Homo sapiens: one gene and its partners. The protein of the gene in region 6 purifies or fractionates together with the protein of the main gene of each other region. This does not show direct contact. Each region holds a gene or a part of one and is shown on either strand. Other genes may lie near its edges. The genes, in order: CAMKV, ZYG11B, AP3M1, AGO3, DHRS2, AP3S1 and AGK.

Region 1 (4,130 bases), on a different chromosome or scaffold from region 6:
CTCCTAAATACGTGCCTACAGAAGTGCACATATTCGTGCATCAGGACAGTCATACAATGCTCATAGTAGCCATATACATAATCGCCAAAAATTGAAAACAGACCAAATACCACCACCAACAGGATGTATTGTGGTAGAGTCACACAATGGAATATTATATAGCAATGGAAACAAAGGAGCTACAGCTATACCCAACCACCTGGTGACTCTTACACAGTGTTAAGTGCAAAAAGACACAAAAGAATACATATAGTATGAGTCTATTGATAGAGTTCAAACAGGCAGAACAAACCCGTAAGGGGGATACAAACACAGCAGTAGAGCTATAAAGAAAAGCTAGGAAATAAGCAGAGTCAGATAATGGTCCCTTCTAAGAGAAAAGGAGGGGTTATGATTGATTCAGGACACATGGGGGGATTCTGGAAGACCTATTTCTTTTCTTTTCTTTTCTTTCTTTCTTTCTTTTTTTAGAGACAAGTCTCACTATGTTGCCCAGGCTGGAGTGCAGTGGCTATTCATGGGCACAAGCCCACTACTGATCAGCACAGGAGTTTTGACCTGCTTCGTCTCTGACCTTGGTTGCTTCACCCCTCCTTTAGGCAACCTGATGAGCTCTAGCTCCCAGGAAGTCACCATACTAATGCCAAACTTAGTGTAGACACCCAACTGGCATAGCGCACTGCAGCCCAGAGCTCCTGAACTCAAACGATCCTCCCACCGCAGCTGGGATTACAGGCACCCGCACCATGCCCAGCTGTTCTGTCACCCAGGCTGGAATGCAGTGGCACCCAGGCTGGAATGCAGTGGAATGATCACAGCTCATTCCAGCCTCAACCTCCTGGGCTCAAGCGATCCTCCCACCTCAGCCTCCTGAGTAGCTAGGACTGGACCATAGGTGCACACCACCACAACTGGCTAATTTTTAAAAATTTTTTTGTAGATACAGGATTTCATTACGTTGCCCAGGCTGTTCTTGAACTCCTGGGCTCAAGTGATCCTCCCACCTCAGCTTCCCAAAGTGCTGGGATTACAGGCATGAGCCACCATACCTGGCTTGGGTAAATTTTTTAAAGTTTACATACTGATGTACCCTCACAAACTCTTTTCTGGAAGAATACTGAAGGAAATAAGAGTTCTCTCCTGGGCAAAGAATTGGATGTCAAAAAGGCAGACATATCTTTTGTTTACTAATTTTCTGTGCGAATTTTTACTATTTTACTATAATGACTTCGATGAATTTAGTAAATACTGCACTCAGGCACAGTGCTTGGGGGATTCCTCAGAGGGATAATCTGGGTGGAGAGGCAAGGTAAAGCTTTGGAGGCAGCATTAGGACTCAGTAGGAAAAGATTTGCCAGGAGGTATGCAGGTGTACTGGTCAGGAAGAGCAAAACAAGCCTGATCCTGGTCCCAGCTTTCGGCTCTGCATATGCATTCATGCCCACTGGGGCCCACAGGGGACCTGGGCTGTCAGGTCCAGGTGCAAGGCCCCCAAACAGAACAGATATAGCTGGCTCAGTGAGCGCTAGGCACTCTTTCCACCTGGGGCACGGTGTCCCACAGGTCTGCAATCCTGCCAATTACAGCCCAATCCTCATCTGTAGTGCTAGGGGGGCTGACTCCAGTGTCCAAAGGAAAAGGCACTCATAGCCCATGCTCAAAGCTGGGGGTGGGGGGTTACTGACTAGACCTTCACAGATCTGACGCCAGGGTGTGCCTCCATAATACCCGGTCAGTGTGACACTGGGGCTACAGCAAGCTCTGCACTGAGGCTGCGCTGAAATTGCTCTGCCTCTGCTGACTGTGCATGTTTTCCCTCCATGCCAATTAGCACTTGCTGTGTGCAGGGCCTGAGCTAGGGCCTGGGGGTACCTAGATGCTCCCCGACCTGAAGGCACTCACAGCCTCAAGGTAGTGGAGAAGGGAGGAGGCAAAGGAGGCAGCTTGGCAAGATGAACTCTGCCAGCCAAAGTCAAAGACCAGGACCCAAACGAGCCCCATAGCCAACCCTGGCTGCTACTTGCTTCCTCCCAGGCAGAAGCCAGCCACCAGGCTGTGATTCCCAGGAGTCACAGCCCTGGAAATTCTCCCTCAGATTTGCCTTCAGCATTAGGGAACAAACTCTATCATTCCTTCATCTGGGTTGCTTGGGCTCAGGGAATACAAATGCATTTCATCAGCATTATTCCAGACAGGGTTTAAGCCATCTTGCGAGGCACAGCAGAGACAAAGGAGAGGCTTTGAAGATCGTCACTGACTGCATGTCTGCCACCATGGGCACAACCCTGCACTCCTCCACTGGGGAGAAGCATGTGGCCAGAATCCCATCCTCACAGCTGAGAGCAGAGGCATAGCCAGTTACCATTGCCGGCTACACATTTTCACACCATAACAGCTGCAGGAGGGGGCCTGCAACAGTCATCTCAGTCTGAGGGCCGTGTACTGGGCAGGAGGATGGTACCTTAGCCTGCAGTCTCCCAAGAAGGCTGGGAGGGACCTGTGCCCTGGCTCTGTTGCTTTGCTTACACCATTCCCTCTGGCAAGAGTGCCCTTCCCCCAAAAGCCTCCCGTCAGATTCCTATTTGTCACGGCAGAGTTATTTATAACATTAAAAAAAATTCAGCAACTACCTAAATGTCCAACAACAGGTGACTCGCCAGCTCAACTGTGTCCACTCAATGGTAGGAAGTGTGGGCACTGGCAAGAGCTCTGCCCACCTTGGCTTTCCTGTGGAGCAGCTGCCACATGAGCGAGGTGCTGAGAGCAGAACTGAATCTCTTCTTTCATTGTGATTTCTGACATTATAAGGTGGTTTGTGCAACACATTGTCCAAAACAATCCTGATGCTCGAAGGCCAGACTCAAAATGGCCCTTTTCTGAGATACCTTCCACAACCTCCATGCCCCACCCCCCACCCCACTCCAACAGCTCCCAGCTTTGCCAGTGTGGCGTGGGTGGGAGGTTTTGTGCATGCCTGTCCTTGATCCTGGCCCCAGCTTTCGGCTCTGCATATGCATTCGTGCCCACTGAGGTCCAGGGCTGGTCATGGGGGTCTGTCCCATGAAAGGCACAGAAAACTGGGCCTCCACCCCGTAATGTCAGCCTGGAGCCATGTCCTGAAGCCTCAAGGCTGAGATGGGAACAGATCTGTCTCCCCTGCCCCCTACTATGGCTGCCCAAATTTCAGCCAGTCACTCCTCCTCCTCCTCCTCCTCACCAGTCTAAGTATACTGGCTTGGGGCCCTGGACTTGGCCCCAGGGCAAAGAGAGGAGAAAGAGGGGCCTGGCTTTCAATTAGCACCTTGGTTCCCTCTGCCCACACCCACTCCACCATCTGCTATCCACTGTTGCTCCCTGGGAGGTTTCGGGTGTGTGCACCAAGCCCTGGGCACCTGCTTGCAACAAAGGAGACCTGGGAGGAACAGCCAAGGGACAGCTCTCAGAAAGAGAGGAGGCCAAGTGGAAGGGGTTTGTATTTTTCACCCCCATGGCCCAGACCCAACACCCAACAATGGAGAGCTCTCCTCTCAGCAACACAGGATCTGAGCTCTTCCTCAGGTACACTTAGGCCATGGAAGGGCATGGGAGCTCCACAACAGCCATTTCCCTGGAGACATGGCTCCCTCCACTCTCTGCAGAGGAACTGAACAGTATGCACTACCGGCTGCCCAGAGGGAGCTTGTGGGGAGTGCAGGCCCTGGTGCGGCCATTGCCCTCCAGCTGGCTCTCATGGAGCCTGAGAGCCAAGCACTCCCCAGTTATGGCCTGCTCCCAGGGCCTGACCACTGGACTCAGGGAATTGAGCCTCCAGCAATCCTGAGGGGTCCTCTGTTGGTGCCCTGGTGATAAATGGTCCCCCAGGGACTCTGCTGCATCTTTAGGTAAGTCTGGCCCAGGGAAAGCCCAAACGGGACAAAGGCCAAGAGGTCCGGAGGCCCCACATTGGGGTCCTGTCCCCTCCTCCGCTGAGATCATCCTGGTTCAGGCCCTACCTTTCATAGACATAAACAGAGTTTCCTGCTACCTTGGTCCCCTGCCACGTGGGGCTCCAGAGCTTGCAGTAAATCTAGGGAGGCCAGGAGGGGCCCAAGAGGCCTCCAGCTGCCTCCCAACAACTGTAGGCAACACCT
Region 2 (4,130 bases), on a different chromosome or scaffold from region 6:
GGGGTTTTACCACGCTGGCCAGTCCAGTCTCAAACTCCTGACCTTAAGTGATCTGCCTGCCTCAGCCTCCCAAAGTGCTGGGGTTACAGGTGTGAGCCACCACACCCAGCCACATTAAAACATTTTAATACAAATAGAAGTGAATTCCATTTAAATATAAACAAAATAAGCCCACAAGGTAGGAACCTAAACTATCTGAGTTGGAGACAAAATATTCTAATATTCCCCAAATTACAGTGCATTTTAGAATAAATTATTCAGGGGCTGGGCGTGGTGGCTCACACCTGTAATCCCAGCAGTTTGGGAGGCCGAGGCGAGCAGATAACGAGGTCAGGAGATCGAGACCATCCTGGCTAACGTGGTGAAACCCCGTCTCTACTAAAAATACAAAAAAATTAGCCAGGCGTGGTGGCAGGCGCCTATAGTCCCAGCTACTTGGAAGGCTGAGGCAGGAGAATGGCGTGAAGTGGGAGGCGGAGCTTGCAGTGAGCCGAGATCATGCCACTGCACTCTAGCCTGGACGACAGCAAGACTCCGTCTCAAAAAAAAAATAAAATAAAATAAAATAAATTATTCAGGGCTGTCATTCCATAGAGTAAAACCTAAATAACTCTAATACCTAAAAGTAGTGACAAAAATAAATACTCATATGAAAATGCACTATTATTATTATTATTATTATTTTTTTTTCAGACAGAGTCTCACTCTGTCGCCCAGGCTGAAGTGCAGTGGTGCGATCTCGGCTCACTGTAACCTCCACCTCCCAGTTCAAGTGATTTTCCTGCCTCAGCCTCCCTAGTAGCTGAGAGTACAGATGTGTGCCACAACCCACAGCTAATTTTTTGTATTTTTAGTAGAGATGGGGTTTCACCATGTTAGCCAGGATGGTCTCGATCTCCTGACTTCGTGATCCACCCGCCTTGGCCTCCGAAAGTGCTGGGAATACAGGCGTGAGCCACCATGCCCAGCCAAAAATGCACTATTATTTACTTATTATGTTTTATTTTCTCCTACTGAGCTGTGAAAGGTCCATTCCTTGAGTTATGAGGAAAGGAACCTATAGATTAGAGACTGGGAATATGATGGGATCAACTGTTAAGAAATTTGGGAGTCCTCAGAACCTGTGGGTACAGTAAAAAGAAAACGACTTTAGGGCAGAGACAGTTTAATGTAGCTAAAGAGGCAGTTTTCGATTTATGAGTGAACAACTCTGCTTCTGGGTAATGTAGTAGGAAGGACCGGATAAGCCTCCAGGTGGGAGTTCAGGTGGGTACAAGGCAGTTTTCTCGGTCACATCCCATTCATTGAATTATTCTTCTTTATCTGACACAGAAGAGCTTTTACTGCATTGCCTTTTTGTGGTATGCAGTGAGTTTTCATCAAACAATACAAGAGAAGGAGCTGGGTGCGGTGGCTCATGCCTGTAATCCCAGCACTTTGAGAGGCCAAGGCGGGTGAGTTCGAGACCAGTCTGGCCAAAATTGTGAAACCCAGCCTCTACTAAAAATACAAAAATTAGCTGGGCATGGTGGCGTGTTCCTGTAGTCCCAGTTACTCGGGAGGCTGAGGTAGGAGAAATGCTTGAATCTGGGAGGTGTAGGTTGTGGTGAGCTGAGATCGTGTCACTGCACTCCAGCCTGGGCAACAGAGTGAGACTCCGTCTCCAAAAAAAAAAAAAAAACCCAAGCGAAAATCTCACTAAATGTTACTACTTCTGCTATAAGGATATTAGTAAAAACAACTCTCACATATCCTATATAAGGCCCTTTATAGTATGTCCCCTATTAAGGTCCAATAGAAGAAATTTAATTCATAGTTAACTTCTCATAAAAAATTCTCTCCCCTCCCCATCTCCCCTGACAAGGATATGGAATGTTTCCCTCTTATATGGAGAACCATGTCGCTTTTTACTTGCAGCAGAGCCACAAAAATCCCTATGCATGGCCTACAAGTCTACATTTGACTATTTTCCCTCTATCCTAGAATTTTTTTTTTTCTTTTTGAGACAGAGTCTCACTCTGTCACCCAGGCCAGAGTGCATGGTGCCATCACAGCTCACTGCAGCCTTGCTTTCTGGGCTCAGATGATGCTGCCACCTCAGCCTCCCAAGTAGCTGGGACTACAGGAGCACACCACAACACCTGGCTAATTTCTTTTACATCTTTTATAGAAACTAGGTTTCGCCATGTTGCCCAGGCTGGTCTCAAACTCCCGGGCTCAAGCGATCCACTCACCTCAACTTCAGAAAATGCTGGGATTATAGGGATGAGCCATTATGCCCGGCCCCTATAATTTTTGAAAAATTATTTTTCCTTACTTCTAATTAAAACTAAAAGTAGGCCAGGCACAGTGGCTCACACCTGTAAGCCCAGCACTTTGGGAGGCCGAGGTCGGTGGATCACCTGAGGTCAGGGGTTCAAGATCAGCCCAGCCAAAATGGTGAAACCCTGTCTCTACTAAAAATACGAAAATTAGCCAGGTGTGGTGGTGCAGGCCTATAGTCCCAGCTACTCTGGAGGTTGAGGCAAGAGAATCGCTTGAACCTGGGAGGTGGAGGGTGTGGTGAGCCGAGATCGCACCACTGCACTCCAGCCTGGGTGACAAAGTGAGACTCCATCTCAAAAAAAAAAAAAAAAAAAAAAAAAAAAAAAAAAAAAAAATATATATATATATATATATATATATATATATATATATACACATATATATACACACTTTACTATTAAAGTGGTTCTGTGTATTTCTTGTGTCAAATCATTTGTGGAATGAGTTTATATTAATAAATAATTAGGCCACGCTTGATGGCTGACGCCTGTAATGCCAGCACTTTGGGAGGAAGAGGCAGGCAGATCGTTCGAGCCTAGGAGTTTGACACCAGCCTGGCCAACATGATGAAACCCCATCTCTACAAAAAATACAAAAAAAAGCCAGGTATGGTGACGTGCACTTGTAGTCCTAGCTACAAGCTGAGGCAGGAGGATCATCTGAGCCTGGACGTCAAGGTTGCAGTGAGCTGTTACTATGCCACTGCACTCCAGCTCCAGTGATAGAGACAGACCTTGTCTCTAAATAAATAAATAAGAGTTACATCGTAGCTTTCAAAGAATAATATAGAACCTGATTCAAACACTTTGCTTCTTCAGAAACCATGGGTGCTGGCAGCGACATCTTGAACAACAGAATTTTGGGTGAATGAGAATTGGGCACCGGAATGTACCATAAACAGTGGATCTACTTAAGACCTTTTACTCAACAAATGGACTCACTGTAGTCTCCTAATCTTTAAATTCCTTGAGGTGAGAACAGTGTCTCATTCACCACTATTATTCAGTGTCTAGTTACACCATGCTCATTCTGAAAGAATACCTTAAGTTGGCCGGGCACAGTGGCTTATGCCTGTAATCCCAGCACTTTGGGAGGCTTAGGCGGGCGGATCACCTGAGGTCAGGAGTTTGAGACCAGCCTGGCCAACATGGTGAAACCCCGTCTCTACTAAAAAAAAATAATAATAATACAAAAATTAGCCGGGCATGGTGGCAGGTGCCTGATATCTCAGCTACTCGGGAGGCTGAGGCAGGAGAATCGCTTGAACCCAGGAGGCGGAGGTTCCAGTGAGCCGAGATCGCGCCACTGTACTCCAGCCTGGGGAACAAGAGCGAGACTTCGTCTCAAAAAAAAAAAAAAAAAAAAAAAAAGAATACCTTAAGTTTATAACCTAAGATGGCCTTACATTTTAAGTCAGTGTTCTTAAAAATCACTTTAATACACAATTTAGAAATATCTTTCCTGGGAAATGAGAATTTCACTTAAAGAAAAAAAACACAGTTCTTTTTTTTTGGTACATACGATTCTTGCTGCAGACATGTTGCATGGCCCAAACTGCCCATAGCTGAACTCCTGGTGTTGTGAAACAGCCAAGTAATGGGAAAAATGGATTAAAGGACCTAAAGGTTCAAAAGAAAAGAATCAAAGTTACATCCCATATTTAGCGTAATTTCCTAAAGCAGTGATTCCTAAACTTTTCATTTTCAAAATTTTATCCTATTATATTTAGACTAATATAAATGAGCTATAGAATATCATTTCTTTGTCTTAACCATTTCAGAGAAGACTGCATTCAGACATGACTC
Region 3 (4,130 bases), on a different chromosome or scaffold from region 6:
AAAATAAAAGAATTATTATTATATTCCAGCCAGAGTTAAGTATGGACCTTGTCCCCTGACCTGTTAATAGAGATGTAAAGCTTCAGTTAATCTGACACCCAGAGGGTATCTCTATTGTTCTAGATGTAGTGATTGTTGGGCTAGGTGTCATGGCACGCACCTATATTCCCAGCTATTTGGGAGGCTAGGGCAGGAGGATTACTTGAGCCCAGGAGTGAGGCTGCAGTGAGCTATGATCATACAACTGCACTCCAACCTTGGCAACAGAGCAAGACTCTGTCTCTAAAAACAATAAATAAAAATAAAAAGATACAGTGATAGGTCTAGTGAAGACTCATATTCCATTGATGTTATCTTCCTTTTTTTTTTCTTTCTTCAGGATCTACAGTCTTTGCAGAAATTCAGGGGGTCATTGATGCTTGCATTAAACTATCTGGAATGCCTGATCTCTCCCTTTCTTTCATGGTAAGTTTTATTCTCCTGTTTTATAGCCCCTTGAATGCCTAATACATGTGAAGTACTAAATGAAATGATAAATATTGAGATAAGTTTGCATCTTAGATTGCAAAGGATTATCTCAGAAATATTCCTAGCAGAGTTTCCTAAGACAGTCGCTTACATGATGAGCGTGGTCTTTGTGGAAAGACTAAGGGAGGTCTTTGCCTGAGTGTGCTAGAAGGGGCTTAAAATTGGCTGGCTGGCTTCTGCAAATATCCAGTATCATTTTTACTGAATAATTATTTGCTTTGCTGATATGAAAGGACACTGGTCTTTTGTATCATTTTAGAGTCAGCATGATATACTGCTAGGAACAATTAAGAGAACTGACTTCTGGTGTTGTCACCAGTTTGCTCTGACCTTAAGTCCTCTGAACCTCAGTTTTTTAATCTGTTAAAGGGAAATAATACTACTTGCCTTTTCTCCTTTATAGTTATTGAAATTCAAATAAAATAATGTACATAAAATATTTACAAACTTTAAAGCATTATGAAACTATAAGGTTGTGTAGATGTGGTCATAAACTCTTCCATGACTGCTTTATCTTCAGGGAACATATTTGTCAAGGTATCTGAGTACAGTTCCCATATTCATTATAGTCTATGAACGACTGTCTTCTGTTTTTCTGGCAGAACCCTAGGCTTCTGGATGATGTCAGCTTTCACCCCTGCATCCGGTTCAAGCGTTGGGAATCTGAAAGAGTTTTGTCATTTATTCCTCCAGATGGAAATTTCCGACTCATATCATACCGTGTCAGCTCACAAAAGTATGTTGATGCATCAGCCAGAATCTGCCATCATACATATCAAGTACAACTCACCTTTCCCTGTTTCTTTCTGAAAGTTGAGTACTTGAGGTCATCACTGCTCACTTTAACCATAGCTCACCAGGAGACCCAGTGAGAACGGGTGAAAATACGCACCTAAAATAATCCGTATACTTTGAATGTATGAGTGTAGAGTGGTACTAAGTGAGACTAGAGTAAAATCTATAGCCAAGAACAAGCAAACCATACATAACCTGGGCAAAAATTGTGGTACCGGTCCTTTGCAAGGTTATGCATGGTCAAATTATGGCACTGGTTCTTTGCTCAGGTTATGCATGGTCCATTTTGCTCTGCTTCTGAAAGCTGAGTACTTTGCAAGCAGAGCAAAACGGACCATGCATAACCTGGGCAAAACCATGAACCATTGCCATAATCTTACCATAGTCTGTAGAGTTTGTGGCCAACAAGGAGACAGACCTACCTGTAGTTCGTGAGGACATTCCCCAATTTACCTGCTTCAAGTACGTCTTCTCTGCGTTGAGTTTTTAAGGAACTGTTTAGCATTGAGGGGCCGGGTGCAGTGGTTCACTCCTGTAATCCCAACACTTTGGGAGGCCAATGTGGGCAGATCACTTGGGGTCAAGAGTTCTAGACCAGTCTGGTCAACATGGTGAAACCCTGTCTCTACTAAAAACACAAAATTAGCCAGGCGTGGTAGCGTGTGCCTATATAATCTCAACTACTTAGGAGGCTGAGGCATGAGAATCACTTGAACCTGGAAGGCAGAGGTTGCAGTGACAGATCACACCACTGCACTACAGCCTGGCCAACAGGGTAAAACTCCATCTCAAAAAAAAAAAAAATTTAGCATTGGGGATCGGAGTTATAGGTAGTTTGTTTCTTGAAAATACCAAAAGTTATTTGAGTAACATCATGACAGAACTCAAAAACAGAGAAATTATTTCTCGGCTCTTTTCTTTTCCTTTTTTTTTTTTTTTTTTTTTTTTAAGCCGGAGTTTGGCTCTTGTTGCTCAGGCTGGAGTGCAATGGTGAAATCTCGGCTTACTGCAACCTCCACCTCCAGGGTTCAAGTGATTCTCCTGCCTCGGCCTCCCAAGTAGCTGGGATTACAGGCATGCACCACCACACCCGGCTAATTTTGTGTTTTTAGTAGAGGCGGGGTTATTCCATGTTGGTCAGACTGGTCTCGAACTCCAGACCTCAGGTGATCTGCCCACCTCAGCCTCCCAAAGTGCTGGGATTACAGGCGTGAGCCACCGTGCCTGGCCTGTTTCTTGGCTCTTATCACATAGGAACTGTTTTCATTTATATAAAACATATTTTACATTATTTTTCAGTGGGATCATAATTCATTTTAAACTAGGGCCATTTGCCCCAATTGTTTTTGTTTGTTTGTTTTATGTTATTTTGTTTTGTTTGTTTGTTTTGAGACGGAGTTTCACTATTGTCACCCAGGCTGGAGTGCAATGGTGTGATCTTGGCTCACTGCAACCTCTACCTCCTGGGTTCAAGCGATTCTCCTGCCTCAGCCTCCCAAGTAGCTGGGATTACAGGCACCTGCCACCGCGCCCAGCTAATTTTTGTTTTTTGTTATTTTTTTTTTTTATTAGAGAGGGGATTTCACCATGTTGGCCAGGCTGGTCTCAAACTCCTGACCTCCAGTGATCTGCCTGCCTTGGCCTCCCAAAGTGCTGGGATTACAGGTGTGAGCCACTGCACCCAGCCACCCCAATTGTTTATACTGTTATTAAACTTCAGATTTCTGTCTTGATTTGTATACAGTTCCCAGCACAGTGGTACAAGAACATTATGCTGTACTCAGCTCCCCCTTGTGTAGATACTGAATCTGCAGTTCTAGAGGTACTGCCATCTTGGTATCCTTGGAGGACTGGTTGCAAAAATCAGCAGATGCTCGAGTCCCTTACATAAAATGGTGTAGTATTTGCATATAACCTATGCACATCCTCCTGTATACTTTAAATCATCTCCAAGTTACTTGTGATAGTACACTGTAAACACTGTGTAAATAATTGTTATACCATGTTGACTTTTTATTTTTATTGTAGTTATATTGTTATTTTTTACTTTTTTTTTTTTTTTTTTTTTTTTTTTTTTTGAGATGGCGTCTCGCTCCTTTGCCCAGGCTGGAGTGCAGTGGCACGATCTCAGCTCACTGCAATCTCCGCTTCCCAGGTTCAAGCGATTCTCCTGCCTCAGGCTTCCAAATAGCTGGGACTACAGGCATGAGCCACCACACCCAGCTAATTTTTGTATTTTTAGTAGAGACGAGGTTTCACCATGTTGGCCAGGCTGGTCTTGAACTCCTCACCTCAGCCTCCCAAAGTACTGAGATTACAGGTGTGAGCCACCGCGCCCAGCCCTAGCTAATTTTTGTAGAGACGAGGTTTCATCATGTTGGCCAGGCTGGTCTCAAACTCCTGACCTCAGGTGATCCCCTCCCAACCCTGGTCTCGGCCTCCCAAAGTGCTGGGATTACAGGCATGAGCCACCACGCCTGGCCAATTTTGTGAAATAATATTTTCAATCCTCAGCTGGTCAAATTCAAGGATGCAGAACTGTGGCTACAGAGAGCCAACTCTGTAGTACCTTATTGTGGAGTTAAAGGCAGGGTAGGATACTCTGGACAGAGGTTTTCAGGATACCTCTGGAGCTCTCCCCACACCATTAATTGTGTTTGTGCTTTTGTATCTTTCTCTGTTTCTCTTTTTAGTCTAGTGGCAATACCAGTGTATGTGAAACATAGTATCAGCTTTAAGGAGAACAGTTCTTGCGGCAGATTTGATATAACAATTGGACCAAAGCAGAATATGGGGAAAACTATTGA
Region 4 (3,578 bases), on a different chromosome or scaffold from region 6:
GTTGAAATGTAAGGACCTGCCACGATCTATAAAGGTAACTGCATCAGACACCTGATATGACCTGCAGGTGCTCAGAATTGAATTCACATGAAGCAGAAACTTTCACTATATTTTAACCTTTATAGGTACATGATGATTGGAATTTTTAAAGTAAAGCAAAGTTAAATTCTGCAAAGACATGAGTGAAATAAGCACACTTTCTTTCTTAAAATCTAACCCTCTTCTTCAAAGAAAGGTACCAAAAATCGGCCAAGAAACAGGGAATAACCATCTAGTTGTACAATAGCCTCTGATGCTAACATGTAGCAAAAGTGCCTGAAGGCAAAGGCGAAGTTAATTTCTAAGTATTTGTATTTTATTATTATTATTTTTTTTTTTATTGAGACAGAGCTTCGCTTTGTTGCCCAGGCTGGAGTGCAGTGGCACAATCTTGGCTCACTGCAACCTCTGCCACCTGGGTCCAAGCAATTCTCCCACCTTAGCCTCCCGAGTAGCTGGGATTACAGGCACCCTCCATCGTGCCCAGCTAATTTTTGTATCTTTAGTAGAGACGGGGTTTTGCCATGTTGGCCAGGCTGGTCTCGAACTCCTGACCTCAAGTGATCCACCTACCTCGGCCTCCCAAAGTGCTGGGATTACAGGCATGAGCCACCGCACCCAGTCAATTTCTAAGTATTTGATGGTTTTCACCACATTAATCTAACTCAAAACTGCAGCTGCCATAGCACCACTAAAATCATTTGGTTTTTGAAAAGTTATGCTTTTGCCAAGGATTATTATAAAGAAAAATTCAGCCTGTGTGCTGGATATCTTGCAGGGAAGAAACAACAGGATATGTTTGTAAGTGAACACTACACCATGATAAGGCCTATGTTTCTCTTATTCCTATTTCATAAAATGATCTACAACAAAGACATTTTCACAGAGGCAAACTGGAAAGGAATCCTTCACACAACACTCTTCTATTATCTTGAACGTCTGAATAGCTTTTCCTTTGGAGAACTCAAATGCTTCCGCAAACATTATCTTATTCTTACAACAATTTAGTGATCATGCCTATAATCCCAGCACTTTGGGTGGCTGAGGCAGGAGGACTGCTTGAGCTCAGGAGTTAGAGATCAGCCTTGGCAACATGTGAGACCCCATCTCTGCAATAAAAGAAAATAATTAGCTGGGTGTGGTGGCATGTACCTCTAGTCCCAGCTACTTGGGAGGCTGAAGCAGGAGGATAGTTTGGGCCCAGGAGTTGGAGGCTGTAGTGAGCTATGATCACACTACTGTAGTTCAGCCTGGGCAACAGAGTGAGACCCTGACTCAGAACAAAAGAACTCCAACAATTTAGTGAGGTAGGTGAGGACAGGTATTACCACTCTTATTTACAAGGGGAAACTAGGCACACAGAGATTAAACGAATTGCCTAAGGACACGGAGCAAATCAGTGGGAGACCTATTACTAAATTCCAAGTCTCTGGCTCATATTCTAGAGCCCTTTCTACTCTCAAAGGCAATAAATTCTCAATAGGCTTTTTCCATTTGTGATCTTTCAAAAGTTCCTCCATTAAAGAACACCTTAAGCCTTCTCTCTTATAGCCCACGCTTGACTAGGAACTGGGATGAGTTTTAAACTATTTTTACACAATATTTTGCACATATCAAGAAGGCAGATGTGAGACATAAGCTGTATAATAAAGTCAGAATAAATACATAAATTAAGAGAAATGAACAGGTTAAGTATTAATTCATTCAATATAATTTTTTACATATTTTAGAAGCCATGTATCAGAATAAAAGTCATAACATTTTAAAGTTTAAATCAGAGTCCAATTTATCAAAACCATAAGCTATATTAATTTTCTTTAAGAATATGAGGATCTCTGTTGGTTGGCAGAAGGTTAGAATATTACTTTCAAGAATAATTCTTATTTATTTATTTATTTTAAAGATTGGGGTCTTGCTGTATTGCCCAGGCTTGCTTTAAACTCCTGGGCTCAACTATCCTCCTGCCTCATCCTCCTGAGAAGTTCGGACTACAGGTGCAAACCACCACATCTGGCTAATATCAACAATAATATTATCACTGTGCCATAATACATCATATTCCTGATATATACTCTGTTCACATTAGCATTCTATAGCCAGCAAAAAATTCCATGGCTAGAGATAATACTTGCAACATTAATACTTTCAATCTTAATTCTCACTTAACTGAGTTAGAATTTCTCTTCATATATGTTAAAGTTACATTGTAATAATCATCATTCTATCTATTTTTGTTTTATCCTTCCCCTCTTTTATTTTTAACAGTGTGTGTGTTTGTGTGTGAGTGTGTGTGATGGGGAAAAAAGAACAATTGTGTGATTCACAAATGGCATAAAACACTGATTGTATTACAAATAAGAATGGTGGCACTCTAGTAAGTAAGATAATGGAATGTCAAAGGAAACAAACTTTAGAATACAAACATGGAAAACATGCTAAAATATTAATCAAGCTATAGCTTGTGGCATGTGATTCTTCTTTCCCAAGTATTTTGAGAGTGTCATTTACCCCCAGTAGAATTCTATATCAACTGCCTCTAAGTCCTTTTCCTATTCCTTCTTTTTTTTTTTTTTGAGACGGAGTCTCACTCTGCCACCCAGGCTGGAGTGCAATGGTGGGATCTCGGCTCACTGCAACCTCCGCCTCCTGGGTTCCAGACTACCTTGTCTGGAAAGGCCCTGCTTGGTGTTTTCTATTTAAAGGGGAAAACCAAACATGTTATGTTGATAGCAATGCCTGGCTCTATTAAAGATAAATCCTTCATTTAATTTCCTTATTGTAATTCAGACTAGCAGGATTCTCCTGCCTCAGCCTCAGGCGCCTGCCACCACGCCTAGCTAATTTTGTATTTTTAGTAGAGACAGGGTTTCACCATATTGGCCACGCTGGTCTCAAACTCCTGACCTTGTGATCCACCTGCCTTGGCCTCCCAAAGTGCTGGGATTGCAGGCATGAGCCACTGCTCCCGGCCTATTCTTTCTTTTTTAAAGAGGGAATGGGGTTGGACCCTGGGCTAAGAAATGAGAAAGCTCCTGGAAAACCTTAATTGCAATTAATTACTATAGAAGATCAAGTCTGTTGCTAGCAAAACCAAAGCTTCCTTTTGTTAAACTCCCTGGGATCAAACTGTATCCATGAACTGGGTCGGACTGTCTATGCCAAAATTCTTTCTTCATTACAAACTAACCAGTGTTTTTACCAAATCCCACACCAAAACCATTTTCTTTACAGGAAAGACTACATTGTCTGGAAAGGCCCTGCTTGGTGTTTTCTATTTAAAGGGGAAAACCAAAGACACTATGTTGATAGCAATGCCTGGCCCTATTTAAGGATAAAGACTTCATTTAATTTCTTTACTGTAATTCAGAAGCAACTTCCAAGACTTCTCTAAGTTACTGAGAATAGGTGTGCCTTTGGGTCTGGGACAACATTATCATATAAATTTAGATTACAGAGACGCTCGTCTTAGGTCTCTTCTGTAGGTTCAAATAGCAATAGCTGCTCTTTTACTCTGCAAATATTAAACAATTGTAAGGTTT
Region 5 (4,018 bases), on a different chromosome or scaffold from region 6:
CTCAGGTCCCCAACTCCGACTGGTCCCCACCCCCGCCCTGCCATACCTGTTCTCCATGTAGGGCAGCAACTGGCTCAGCAGCAGGGCTGGGGACTTCACGTTCACACTTAGGATCTGAAATCAGAGCAGAGCATGGGTGAGGGCAGAGAGACATGGTCAGCCCAAGTCCTGCTCTCATAAGACACTTGGAGCCCTGTAATTTGTGCAGTAGACCCAATGTATGTGCATATAAGAGAAACCAATCCCCCTTCTGACTGGTGCAAGAGGTATTTCCAATTTGCTAATGGTTTCATAGGCAGGCAGGCTAAGTCACAGGCCTGTGAGCAGAGCCCTGAAAATGTGAATTGTTCAGGACTGACACGAGGAAGGAAATGTTCAGGCCTTTTAAAGAAAATGGGGACTGGGGGCAGTGGGTCATGCCTGTAATCTCAGCACTTTAGGAGGCCAAGGTGGGAGGATTACTCAAGGCCAAAAGTTCAAGACCAGCCTGAGCAACATAGTGAGACCTTGTCTCTACAAGATTTTTAAATAATTGGCCTGGTGTGGTGGTGCACACCTATAATCCTAGCTACTCAGGAGGCTGAGGCAGGAGGATCCCTTAAGCCCAGGAGTTTGAAGCTGCAGTGTGCCATGATCATGCCACTGCACTCCAGCCTGGGTGACAGAGTGAGACCCTGTCTCTTAAAAAGAAAACAACAACACACTGTAAGCAGAGGCCTCTGGAGAAAGACTGAAGACAGCCTGATGGAGGGGAAGCAGGTGCTAGAAGCAAGGGAGATTTCTGGAAGAGCCTTTTTTGTCTCTCTGAGCTTTCATTTGCTTGTCCTCTTACCTTGTCCCCATAGAATTTAAGGCATACTCACAATGCAACAGCATAAAATAAATCAAATAGGTACTATGTGTGAAGAAATGGAGAAAAGGAAAAATCAGTGTAGAAAAATAAGAAAAAGCAAGAGTGAGGTTGGTGCCTACAGTTCACAGCATGTGATAAGGACTGAGCATTTATTCTATTATTTGGTCATAAAAATGCAGGCTGTAAGGGCCTACACACACCAGCTTATCGCAGACTTGGCTCTGAGCTTTCCTGCAGCCAATACAAACAGGGAGACACAACAGAGAATTGCCATGCTGGGAGCTAGATGTCTATGCTGATCCTGCTTGTGACTAAAGTCTGAATCTGGGCTAAGTCACACATGTCCTGACACTCTGGAAGCTCTGTCTGGTGGGTCTGGGAACGGGGGAGAAGTGAAAGAGGAAGTAGCAAGGAAAGATGCAGAGGCGGAGCCTGGGAGCTAGGGCAGTGCCAGGTGGGACTGACATGGCACCAGGAGTCCCTCCTGCAGGGATCTGTCCTGATTCAGGTCAGCTGCATCCTGCATCTCTAGGGAATGAGACCACATCTGCAACTCACCAGGACTGTTCACTGTTTTTTCCACCCCCCAATCTCACTCCCACTCAATCCCTTGGATGTGGGAAGGAGAAATACTTAAGCTGAATGTTGCTGTGGCCCATTTGATGACAGGTTACCAGTGTGGGGGATGACCCCCAATGACTGCAAGAAGTGGTCCAGATGTCAGAAGTGGGTACCACCCTGAGGTCCCTAATAAGAAGGAATTGAGGATTAGGTTAGCTGTAAGGGTTTCCTGGTCAAAACAGACCCCAACCAGCCCACAGGATATCTGTCCAATACTCCATGTGCATCAGGCTGAGTGAGGGGCTGAGGTAAGACCCCTCCTGGACTCAGGAACAAAAACCAAGCCAAAGAAAAGGTGAGACTCCCTCCCTTGATGAAGAAAACTGCCCCATTAGAAAGTAAGAGAGAGTAGCTCAGTGTGCCAAGTAGTTCTGAGCAGAGAACTATCCATGAGCCTGAAAGAGGGCGCACGCTGGAGTCGCTGGAGAAGGATGGAGGTGATGTGGTTTTGGTAGTTTAACAGATCAGAGGTTTCCCAACCTGCTGGAAAGAAGGGGGGTCTGCCTGGAGATGGCCTCAAAACTGGCTCAAGAATAAGATGAGTGGTAAGGAATTCTCCTTACAGGACACCTACGGAAAACACATTTAGTTGAAAGCAGAGCATCTGGTAAATTCTAAACTCATTTTGTGACAATTTCACCTCTGAGGTGATGGCAGATGTGATCGGGGACGAGTCATCAATGATTTCTGTCCAGTGGTACAGAATTGCTCACTGAAGGCCAAGTCCTTGGAGAACAGGGGAGAATCAGAGAAAGTAAGGTCAGATTGTTGGCATCTGCCCTCAGCTTCAGGAGGGAGGACTGCAACAGTTTCGAGAAAAAGAGTCATGATCCTGTGAACTGAGACACTAAACAGCAAAATGATTCAGGAGGGTTAGGAGACTGTCAGCAATAAAATCCCAGCTATAAAATCACAAATGATCCTTTGGAGGCATTAACAACATAGCTAAAGAGCCTGGGGAAGCTGCTCAGCAGGGGCTGCAGGGAGCTCAAATTTCAGATCATCTCTGAGGATGTAGCCAAGGGCACCCAGCCAAGGGCAGATAGAAGGGAGGGGCCAGCCTGAAGATGATGTTGGCAAGTGAGAGTGCAGGATCTAGGGAAGGCAGAACACTCTAAGGCCAGAAGGCAGGAAACACTTTGACCCAGTGCTTAGGGCAGAGTGGTGAATGCTCACAATAGCAGAAAGAATGAGATTCATCACGACGCATTCTGGCAGAGAGAACAGAAAACAAAACATGAGAGTGAAGGGAACAGAAGTCACTGGGGAACAACTAGGCCCAAGATGAGCTTCAAGGCATTTTACAAGGTCTCTCCCGGTCCCTTGTGGACAAGGTAGCAGAATCCTTGAATGGACTTACAGCAGGCTGGGATGTCTAAGCCCCCGGAATGCTGATGGCTGGATCTGGTCCTGTCGGCAAGTTTGTGTGGGACTCAGTGAGGAGCCCCCTTCTAGGAGAGACAGTCTCCGCTACAGGCACAGGTCACCAAAGAAAAACACAGTATCCGTATCTTCCCCTACAAAAGGGTGTACCATACAAAAATGTTTGACTCTTACAGAGAGACTCTGACTAACCATTCACAGCTGTATCCCTAGAGCCTGGAATAGTGGTGCCTGGCAGACAGCAATAAATACCTGCTGAATGATTAAATGAAAAAGTGATGAGAAGAGAAAACAAAGCAGAAAGTGTGGGGGCCAGATTTAAGAACCAACAAGCCAGAAAGTAGCATCCGGGCACATTTTGGGAGACAGCTGGCCAGGCAGGACTACCACCCAGGGCCTGCTTCTCCCATAACCTCTGGAGGGAAACAGAGTCTTGGTGGGCACAGGCATGCTGGAGCCCAGTGCAGAGCTGGAATCGGGCCCTCAGCCGCCTCCCCAGGGGAGGCCTCTCACCTTGTCCCAGATCTGCTCACTGGTCCCCAGAGTGCTCCCTACCAGAGGGTTGACCCCTGCGCTGCACACCAGGAAGTCGACGCCCCCACAGTGCTCCAGGGCCTGCGGAGAGGAGATTGGATGAGTGTGGAGATGGCCTGAGGAGGACTATCCCTCCCAGGGCAGCCCAGGTCATAAGGCCTTCAGGCAAAGCTTGCAGAGCTCCTAAAGGAAAATGACCTAGGTGTCCCAAGGGCAGGCTCCTGGGGCCAGGCACTGAGAGAGGAAGGTCTGCTCCAGGAGTCCCTCTGGGGACCTCCCTCACCCCTTCAGACTCCTCCTCCACAGTGATTCTCCCCGGGCCTGGGGGTGGGGTGAGGGTCCTCTCACGAACAGGTCACTTTCCTGAGGGACCTTCTGGGTAGCGAGGTTAGCTTGGGCAGCCTGGGTGCAGTCATGGTCTCAGGACATATTCTAGACCCACCCCACAAGGGCCAAGCAGTGAAGGAAAGGTTCTGCATGTTCCCCTCTCTGTGTCCTTCCACCGCCTGCCCCCTCACCTTGGCCACCAGCTGCTCCCGGTCCTCAGCCTTCCCCACGTGGCACACAATGCCCGCCACACTCAGCCCCTCCCCCTGCAGCTTGGCCATGGCCCGGTCCACGTTCTGC
Region 6 (4,130 bases):
TTTCTACTTTCCACGAGTACATGACAGAATTTACTTTGGATATGATATATTAATACCATGTTTGTTCTTTGAAAACTCCCCATCTAATCCCCTTTGGAGATAGAACTACTTTCTCATAAGAAGATCAACAACAGCATCAAAATAATAATCAATGGTGATGACTTAATCTCAGGACGCAAGCATAAAATACTTCTGATTTACCTCTAGGAAAAGACACATTTGTTTTGGTCTTTCTTAATAGCAACATTTCTCTTCAATAAGAGACTAAATTTGAAATGGTACACTTTCTCCTGTTTTTCTTCCTGTAATTCTAGTGGCTAGGCTCAGGTAAATAAAAACAGTGTTTTGGAACATAGTGTGCATGTCTACCACTCTCTTCAGTCATGGGAAACAGAGAAATAGAAAGCATGGTTCTATATTAATTTTTTTTCTGTAAAAATATAATGCTCTCTTGACATAATGATAAAATGAATTAACTACTCCCCTAGGTGGGATAAACTAAGAAATGTAAGAATAAACAAAGTTACAAGGCAATGCAATATATAGTCCTGATCAACCCTTCAATGTCATCAAAAGTAAGATTTGGCTTCTTTTTCTTTACTAGAAAAGCCTTGAGAAAGCAAAACATAACTCAGCAGTGTTTCTCAAGTAGGCCCCAGGAGGAAAGTGAACATATACCCAAGGGATCTTGGGGCACCTTTACCTCAAGCTCAAAATTTCTTTCAAGTCTCCACTTAGAGCTTTAAATATTATGAAAAATTTGTATTCTACCTCATAATATATACATGTTTACGTTCATTTCCTCACTGCCGCCAATCTTCAAAACAAAGAAGAAACATATACCAGGAATATGTGCCATGATTACCTTGTGGTTTCATGTAACTTTGATACCCAGCTCCTCCCAAAAACCCAGTTTAAGAATTACAGATTTAAGAGTAATATGGCATACAAATAGATCAATTTATCATTTATCTCCTTTTTTATTTTATTAACAATGTTTTTATTTCTATTTTTTTTGAGACAGGGTCTCACTCTGTTACCTGGGCTGGAGTGAGTGGCACAATCTCAGCTCACTACAAGCCATCCTCCCTGGCTCCCGCCTCAGCCTCCCAAGTGATTGGGACGACAGGTGCAGAACAGCATGCCTGTCTAATTTTTGTAGAGATGGGGTTGCCCAGGCTGGTCTCGAACTCCTGGGCTCAAGTGATCTGCTCAGCTTAGCCTTCCAAAGTGCTAGGATTACAGGTGTGAACTACCACACCTGGCCACAATGTTTTTATTTTTAAAGCCTTAGCCACAGTGCTAAGAATTTGTTACCTAAGTTGTCTGCTTGGGTTAATTTCTTGTCTATTCTGTAACGCCAACTAGAGCTCAAACCATGCCACCTTCTTGCTAACTTCAAAAGCCAATTTTATCTGTGCACTGGGAAGCAAGGTGCTAGAAGTGCTAGATATTTTAGGAGAGAGGAGACTGTATGAGTAGTCATCTAGAGGTATGGGAGAGTAAATGGACCGGGGAAACAGAAAATGATTCTTGCGTAGCATAAAGGACTCAATGAGCTAAGGGATCATTAATTTAAAGTGAGACTGGTAAATATGGTTACTTTTTTTTTTCCTCTAGGTATGTTCAGATGTATGGGTGTGGGCAAGGAGTTCAGTGTACACAAGGCTATATCACTACCATGATTATGAAATTTAAGCTGGATAAGGAAAGTAAGACATCAGTAAAATCAGAGTGAAAAAAATGATGGATTTTTAAAACTGAGGGTTGCAATAGGTCTAACGACTTCAAAACTGTGAAATTGAGATTATGGAGGGGTTACAGTTTAGACAAAGATAAAATCTAGAAATGGGTACATAGTGAGATGGAGTGGAGGGCAAAATTTATTGGAAGAGAGGAGTTCCAGATTTTGAAGACACCAGGATATTGGGAGAATTATACATATGAACAATGGAATCACCAAGAATTACAAAACAAGCAGTACTGGAATGAATGCCAGGGAACCAAGAACCAAAATCTATTAGGAGACAATTTTAGATGGATCTTGTGTTTCCACACGTATTGTGAGCAGAGGCATTGACTGTCTTTGTTCTGGGCTATCTTTTTAAGCATGCTTGTATATCAAACAGCCCTGGAAAATAGACAGTGTCTTCTTCCACAGCAAAGGATAGGTTTCCTTACACTCTTGGAAGAGACAGTCTTCCTTCCAAACAAGGGCAGACATGCTTAGTATCCATTATAAAAGATTCCAGTTCCCTAAACTTGGCGTTCCTCATCTGTCATTTAATCCACTGTGTGTGCAGGTATCATCTGGACCTCTTCATATCACCCTTTGGGAATTAGAGAATTCGTGCAAGCAAATGCTGTCACTTTAGCTAATGTTTTTGCTATTAGTAATAAGGTCCTTTGTCTCTGGCCCAGAAATCTCCTGCCTTCTGCCAGCATCCATGAAATTATGGCAGGTTAACTTCTTAGTTTGCAAGTAGAGCAAATCTCAGACCCTTCACAATTCTTAACAAAATCTCCAATGAAGGAGAGATGGAGATGAGTGATGACTATAACTAAATGGATAGAAGGTGGTATAGTCTGATAACATAAGATAAAATTTGGAGGTGTTTGAGAAGAAAGAATGGTCTGGAAAATGCAATGAGAAGCTAAGATTACACCTCCAGGCTCAAAGGCAGAAAGAAGCAGGAGAGAAAATGGCCACTACTTCAAAGGGTTGCACGTAGTATCATCAGGGAAGCAAGATTTAATTTAGAGCAAAATGTAAAGTAATATTAACAGAAGAGGCTGAAGATAAAAAGAAATTTGCTGATGACTGACCTTGAGTTCCAGGGACATTATGAAAGATTTTCAGGAGACAGGGAGAGGTAGGGTTTAGGGTTAGTTTTGGATACATGTGTTAAGAAACCCACGAGTCTTAAGCTCCTTGCTGTAACTTACATGAGCAAGATAAAATGTCATGATTAAACTAGTTATGATAGTTTTAATCAGATCAAATGTTTGCTTGTTTCTATGTCCTCTGACCTCTTTTACCAACACAATATCTATTATGAAATGCTTTATTTCTTACTAACATCATTTTAGAAAATTTAGAATATATAAGTTTTTAAAAATTTAAATGTCAAACTGTTATTTAAGATAGTAAGAAGCAAGTGTTAACTTACTTGAATTAGATCTAAAATGCCAAGTTCACTTTCTGAAGAATCCACACAGAAGACAAAATATAACGTTGCATAATGTCTATAAATCAGTTTGTTGTCAGATCCTCCAATTAATCTAAATGACAAAAAAATTGTAATGTTATTGGAAACAAAATGCGAATCATTTTCATTAGCTCAAGCAAACTGACAATTTGTTTAAAAACCACTTGTCAAATGAAAGGTGACATTCAATGGCAAAGTATTTAAGTGAACTTATTCAGAGACTAGGTGAATTAAGGTGGCTGTTTTCTTCAGAAACATCAAGTAAAAGAAGCCAGTGCTTAATTTCAGTTCATTCATTCATTAAACTATTCTCTGAGTAACTACTATGTGCCAAGCACTGGTAGTGGGGAAGAAGCAACAAACACACACATCAGAACATCATCAGATAGTGGCAAGTGTTACACTGACAATCAAAATACAATGATGATATATTGATGGGTTCCCTACTTCAGGCTGAATATTAAGCAAGAGTGGCATTTAAGCTGAGATCTAATGATAAGGAGTTGGCTTGGAAAAAATTTAGAGAAGAGCATTTCAGGCTAAGGTAGTAAGTACTAAAAGGACATTTCATCAAGAACAAAGTATGTATGTTCAGGGAAGAGAAAAAAGGCCAGTAGATAAGAAAAGATTAGTAAATGATAAAGTCAGAGAAGTAGGCGGAAATTAGATCATGGGGCATTTGTAAGTGCTTACTAGATTTAACTCCATACGTCACAGTAAGTTACACAGCTTAAGACTGATTATCAACCAGAAAAAAAAGAAGAATGACACTTCTTAAGTTTTGGATAGATTTACCGTCAAGATCTCTTCCAAAATTACATTGTTTTGACATAAATGCAAGAAAACTGAGCTAAGATACTAAACTCTTTCATGAAATACTTTTATTTATAATGACTGGAATTTTAGTATTTTAGAAATAAT
Region 7 (4,755 bases), on a different chromosome or scaffold from region 6:
CCTGCCTCAGCCTCCCAAGTAGCTGGGACCACAGGCACATACCACTACACTTGGCTAATTTTTTTCTTTCCTTTTTTTGTTAGAGACAAGGTCTCACTATGTTGCCCAGGCTGGTCTCAAACTCCTGGCCTCAAGCAATCCTCCCGCCTTGGCCATCCAAATTGCTGGGATTACAGACGTGAGCCACTGCACCTGGCTCAAAAACGAAATTTTAAAGTAGATCCCTCTAGGTTGTGGAATGGTGGGTGATGTTTATTTTTAAAATTGCAATGTACTTTCTAAGTTTTTGAAAATGAACTTATTTTCTAGATAAACAAAAATTTAAGCAAAATTTTTTTATGACTATCTGTTAGTGAGGTATATAGACCAAGAAAAAAAAAACTGTTTCCACTTAAAAGTCCAGTTCTTTTATGACTCCCTTTAAATCCCATTGGTTAAAATTCCTCTCAAGGGTAGAAACATCCTTATCAAAAGCAGCAGTGAAGCCAGTGCCAGGGAGACCATCTTCCTGTGAATCCCATACACCGTCAGGCTGACACATGATTCCAAAGGCCCAACTAATTCTTGAACTCCTCTCCATCTGGCCCTAAATCACTCCTTCATTCAAGAGCCCTTTAATAAACACCTATATGGTAGGCTCTGTGCTGGGGGTGAGGGCAGAGAAGAATGGGTCTCATGCGTTCTCTCAAGTGCTCACAACTGTCAAACCCACAATGCTAACACAATTATACAATTATGATTGCAGTACAGTGGGATAAATGTCGAGGAGTCAGCACAAGGCTTTGTGAGAGTCTGCAAGAATGAACCTAACCTGGTCTAGGGCTGAGGGGGTGGTGCACAGTCAATGAAGTCTTCCCTGAGCCTTGAATAATGAGGAGGAAATCACTAAAGTAACGAAGGAGTTTTGTGGATGCTATTGTCTGAATGCTGTGTTCCCCAAAAATGGTGATGTGGAAGCCCTATCCCCATTGAGATGGTATTAGGAGATAGAGCCTTCGGGAGATAATTGGGTCATAAGAGTGGCTCCCATGAAAGGGATTAGTGTCCTTATGAGACTAGACACTACAGAGATGGTCTCTCTGCATTGTGAGGATACAGCAAGAAGACAGATCTCTACAAACCGAGGAAGAGAGCTATCACCATGCACTCAACCATGCTGGCACCTTAACTTTGGACTTCCAGCCTCCGGAACTGTGAGAATTAAATTTCTGTTGTTTAAGCCACCCAGTTTTTGCTATTTTTTTTTTACAGTAGCCCAAACTGAGAGTGTACAAAGGCATAAAAGACAGTAAAGTGTGTTGAGAGAAACATACGTAGATAGTTGAGGGGAGAATTAGGTTCATGGCTGAGACTGGAAAAAGGGGGTATGATCTAACAGTAATACGCTGGGGAGAATTTAGCAAGGCCTATTTGTTCTGATTCTTCTCTGTGTACCTGTGTCTTCAAAGATAAGGGCATTCCTTTCCTCGATCCTATACTTACAGGATGAGCACCTCTCACTGAAGGGTCTTATACAGAAGAAGGTCAAACAATTCTTTTATGGCCTGCTTCAGGGGAGAAAAGTGGGAAGACACAAAGTGACTTTCCTGCTTCAGTTGTTTCCTCTAATGCCAACGAGTCATATTTTGCGGCAGTGTGTCCTGAATCTCATCAACAGCGGAGTAAAAATTGGAGTGTCTAGAACAGGGGTTCTCAACCTTTAGTGCAGAACTTGTTAAAAACACAGAATCCTGGGAACTGCCCCTTCCCGCAAGAGTCTCATTTGTTCTGGAATTAAGCTGTCATCTTCACTTGTTAACAAGTACTCCCATGTTGGTTGCAATGGAGGTCACCACTATACCAGACTTTGAGAAACAGTGGTTTAGAGATAAAGGATTGAAGACCAGGTGGGATTAGAAAAGACCTTGAACCCACACTAAGGACTTTGGCTATTATTTTGAAGACAATGAAAAACCTTTAATGGGCTTTAAGCAGGTGAGTGATATAATCATATTTGAACTGTTAAAAGACCACTTTATAGCAGAATGAAAAATGAACTGGAAGAAGCTAAAATTAAAGCTAAAGAGAACCATTAGGAAGTTATTGCCATAATCTGTAGGCTCCTAAAAGAACAAACCAAGATAAAGGATGGATTTGGAAAGCTTTAGAAAGTAGAAATTGGCAGCAGTTGGTGGTCCATTGACTGTAGTAAGTGAGAGAGGAGGAACCAAGCCAGGTTTTTGTGCTTGGGTGACTGGTTGAATAGTGATTTCAGTCATTTAGATTTGAGTGGTAGGTTTGTGGAGAAAAGTAGTGCGGTTTAGGAGATACTGAATTTGACACGCCTGTGGAGTATCCAGGTGGAAATGTTTTTCTTACTAGATAGTGAACCCCTCATGGGCAAGTTCGTCTATCCATCTGCAGCACCAGAACCTAGTAAAGCGCCAGAATGAATGAACCAACCAACCCATCAATGGATCTGATACTATTGGCCCCATTTTGCAAAGGGCTATGCTGAAGCCCAAGGGACGAAGTGAGGGGGGTCCACAAGTTAGCGACAGCTCTGGGACTCGAACCCAGGACAGCTGACTCCCGCCGTGACCACGGGATCCGCGCGAGGCCCTCCCCTGCCGCGCCGGCCAGGCCCGCACCCCCTACCCTCAAGCCGCGCCGCCGCCTGCACCCACGACCCCTGATGCTTGGGTCCCCGCGGCTCTCGGCCCAGCGCGACTCCAGAGGCTCCGCCCAGCGCCCCGGGCCCCCATCCCGACTCCCACCCCGCTCGCGCGCTCAGTCCCAGCGACCCGCACTGCGCTCCCCGCCTGGGCGCCGCTGCACTCACCACGGCTGGTCCAGCTCGCGGCTCTGCCTTTCCTGTGTGCTCCCTCCAGATTCCCCGGCTCGTTCAAGGGAAACCGCTGCCGCCGCCCTCGGGTTCCGCCGCGGGGCTGCGAGCGCGCGCGGGCCAGTTCGGGCCGGGGGCGGGAACCGGCTCGGATGCTCAGGGACGGTGGGGGTGGCAGGGCCCACCGGCTTGAGGCTGCCTTTCCCGGCGTTCCCTCGTTTATTGGCTCACTCTTCCTTTCATCCATCCATCCTTTGCGCAACAATATTTGATGGGAAGCCTGCCAAGGTAACACTGTTTTAGCACCTGGAACTAAGTCGGAAAATAAATTAACTAAATGAACAAGGCCATTGGAGATGGTGCTCCGTGCCACGAAGAAAATGAAACGAGGTGATGGAAGGCAGTGCGGGAAGGGGGAGAACTGTGTGAAATTAGGCGGCCTGCGCTAGGCCTTCTGAGTAAGGGGCCATTGGTCTGAGACCTGGATGTCAAGAAGGAGCAGCTGAAGCAAAGATCCAGGGGAGAGAGCCTGGAGAGGGAAGGGCCCGTGCAAAAGCTGAAAAGCCTGGGGCACTCTGGCGAGTTGCAGGCCAGTGTGGGTGAGACAGAGAGAGCTAAGGAGACAGGCCAAGCGAGGAAGCTGGAGAGGTGGAGACAGGCCACGGCGGCCAGGAGTTTGGACATGACATTAAACAGGGCGAGAAGACATTGCGGGGGTGCAATCAGGGGCTGGTGGGACTGGTTTCCATTTCACACAGCTCTCTGGCCACAGGTGCTTGATTGGATTCTAGAGAACAAGAGAGCAACGGAGAAGCTAGGCCAATGCCAACCTCCAGACAGTTTACATTCTGTACTCGCCCACCAGATTGGTGTGGGGACAAAGCCAGGTCCTTCTTCTTTCCAGCATTCAGTCTGCCAACTTTTTTTTTTTTTTAGACAGGGTCTCACTCTGTGGCTCAGGCGCTAGTGCAGTGGTGCAATCTCAGCTCACTGCAGCCTCTGCTTCCCGGGTTCAAGCAATTCTTGTGCCTCAGCCTCCCGAGTAACTGGGATTACAGGTGTGTGCCACCAGGCCCAGCTAAATTTTTTTGTATTTTTAGTAAAGACGGGGGTTTTGTCACGTTGGCCAGGCTGGTCTCGAACTCCTGACCTCAAGCGATCTGCCCGCCTTGGCCTCCCAAAGTGCTACGATTATAGGCATGAGCCATCGCACCCGGCCAGTCAACCAACATTTGAGTGTGCACTAGGCCCTGCATCAGGCACTGGGGGTATGCTCAGGTACAAGGCCCTTCATGGTTCCTGCCCCATGGAGCTTGCTATCTAGTCTGCACATTTCCTACGTGTAGACATGCATCCTACCTATGTCTCCCTAGGTGAATGCTTCAAAAAAAAAAGGCCGGGGCGGGGACCTTCAATGAGGCTATGGTGCAGTAAACATATTCCTTATGCCAGGGTGCACCAATCCATTGGGCCACACTGTTTAGTAGCAAGAAATTTCTAGCCCTCTCTCCTGAGTCTCCATCTGTAAACTAGGGGACTGAGAACATTACTATTAAAAAAAAACCCTTCTAGCTCTAAAATGTTGTCATAGGGTATGGAAGACCATTATTTTCAGTTCCTCTTTTCCAACTATCTAAAGCGTTTGTGTTTGGAAATAAGCTTCTGAACTGCTCACCTGCAGGCTAGAAAAATCTGAGACTTGATTTTGATGTTCCAAGGGTCAGACTCAGCGTATGCTTTAGGGCTTCAGCATGAAAGTGGTTCCCCAAATAAGAAAAGGTCAGCTTTGATGAAGGATGAAGAAGGATGGAAATATAGGAGATTAAGGGAATCTGAATACACACCTGCAGGCAGATGTGTAGGTTGGAGTTTTGGAGACCTATACCAATTCTACTCTCTTCCAAATACCATTTTACTAGGATGCATTCAGA

Evidence for each region.
Region 1: the proteins of AP3S1 (region 6) and CAMKV purify together in Homo sapiens (co-immunoprecipitation; one large-scale study listed by IntAct). This does not show direct contact.
Region 2: the proteins of AP3S1 (region 6) and ZYG11B purify together in Homo sapiens (affinity purification with mass spectrometry; 2 studies listed by BioGRID and IntAct, with this or other methods). This does not show direct contact.
Region 3: the proteins of AP3S1 (region 6) and AP3M1 purify together in Homo sapiens (co-immunoprecipitation; 5 studies listed by BioGRID and IntAct, with this or other methods). This does not show direct contact.
Region 4: the proteins of AP3S1 (region 6) and AGO3 purify together in Homo sapiens (affinity purification with mass spectrometry; 3 studies listed by BioGRID and IntAct, with this or other methods). This does not show direct contact.
Region 5: the proteins of AP3S1 (region 6) and DHRS2 purify together in Homo sapiens (affinity purification with mass spectrometry; 2 studies listed by BioGRID and IntAct, with this or other methods). This does not show direct contact.
Region 7: the proteins of AP3S1 (region 6) and AGK purify together in Homo sapiens (affinity purification with mass spectrometry; 2 studies listed by BioGRID and IntAct, with this or other methods). This does not show direct contact.

What each region holds. Positions count from the first base shown.
Region 1 is NC_000003.12:49,862,906-49,867,035, forward strand, and holds part of CAMKV (caM kinase-like vesicle-associated protein), read right to left. Parts: intron 756-4,130; exon of another isoform or gene 470-755; intron 1-469. UniProt on the Homo sapiens protein: Does not appear to have detectable kinase activity.
Region 2 is NC_000001.11:52,816,346-52,820,475, reverse strand, and holds part of ZYG11B (protein zyg-11 homolog B), read right to left. Parts: intron 3,945-4,130; coding exon 3,847-3,944; intron 1-3,846. UniProt on the Homo sapiens protein: Serves as substrate adapter subunit in the E3 ubiquitin ligase complex ZYG11B-CUL2-Elongin BC. Acts to target substrates bearing N-terminal degrons for proteasomal degradation with the first four residues of substrates being the key recognition elements.
Region 3 is NC_000010.11:74,126,242-74,130,371, reverse strand, and holds part of AP3M1 (AP-3 complex subunit mu-1), read left to right. Parts: intron 1-379; coding exon 380-465; intron 466-1,130; coding exon 1,131-1,264; intron 1,265-4,016; coding exon 4,017-4,130. UniProt on the Homo sapiens protein: Part of the AP-3 complex, an adaptor-related complex which is not clathrin-associated. The complex is associated with the Golgi region as well as more peripheral structures.
Region 4 is NC_000001.11:36,066,860-36,070,437, reverse strand, and holds part of AGO3 (protein argonaute-3), read right to left. Parts: 3' UTR 1-3,578.
Region 5 is NC_000014.9:23,639,248-23,643,265, reverse strand, and holds part of DHRS2 (dehydrogenase/reductase SDR family member 2, mitochondrial), read right to left. Parts: coding exon 3,910-4,018; intron 3,473-3,909; coding exon 3,371-3,472; intron 2,992-3,370; exon of another isoform or gene 2,835-2,991; intron 2,045-2,834; exon of another isoform or gene 1,619-2,044; intron 1,601-1,618; coding exon of another isoform or gene 1,574-1,600; exon of another isoform or gene 828-1,573; intron 115-827; coding exon 47-114; intron 1-46. UniProt on the Homo sapiens protein: NADPH-dependent oxidoreductase which catalyzes the reduction of dicarbonyl compounds. Displays reductase activity in vitro with 3,4-hexanedione, 2,3-heptanedione and 1-phenyl-1,2-propanedione as substrates.
Region 6 is NC_000005.10:115,869,169-115,873,298, reverse strand, and holds part of AP3S1 (AP-3 complex subunit sigma-1), read right to left. Parts: intron 3,283-4,130; coding exon 3,171-3,282; intron 1-3,170. UniProt on the Homo sapiens protein: Part of the AP-3 complex, an adaptor-related complex which is not clathrin-associated. The complex is associated with the Golgi region as well as more peripheral structures.
Region 7 is NC_000007.14:141,549,501-141,554,255, reverse strand, and holds the start of AGK (acylglycerol kinase, mitochondrial isoform 1 precursor), read right to left. Parts: upstream 2,847-4,755; 5' UTR 2,822-2,846; exon of another isoform or gene 2,638-2,821; intron 2,573-2,637; exon of another isoform or gene 1-2,572. UniProt on the Homo sapiens protein: Lipid kinase that can phosphorylate both monoacylglycerol and diacylglycerol to form lysophosphatidic acid (LPA) and phosphatidic acid (PA), respectively. Does not phosphorylate sphingosine. Phosphorylates ceramide.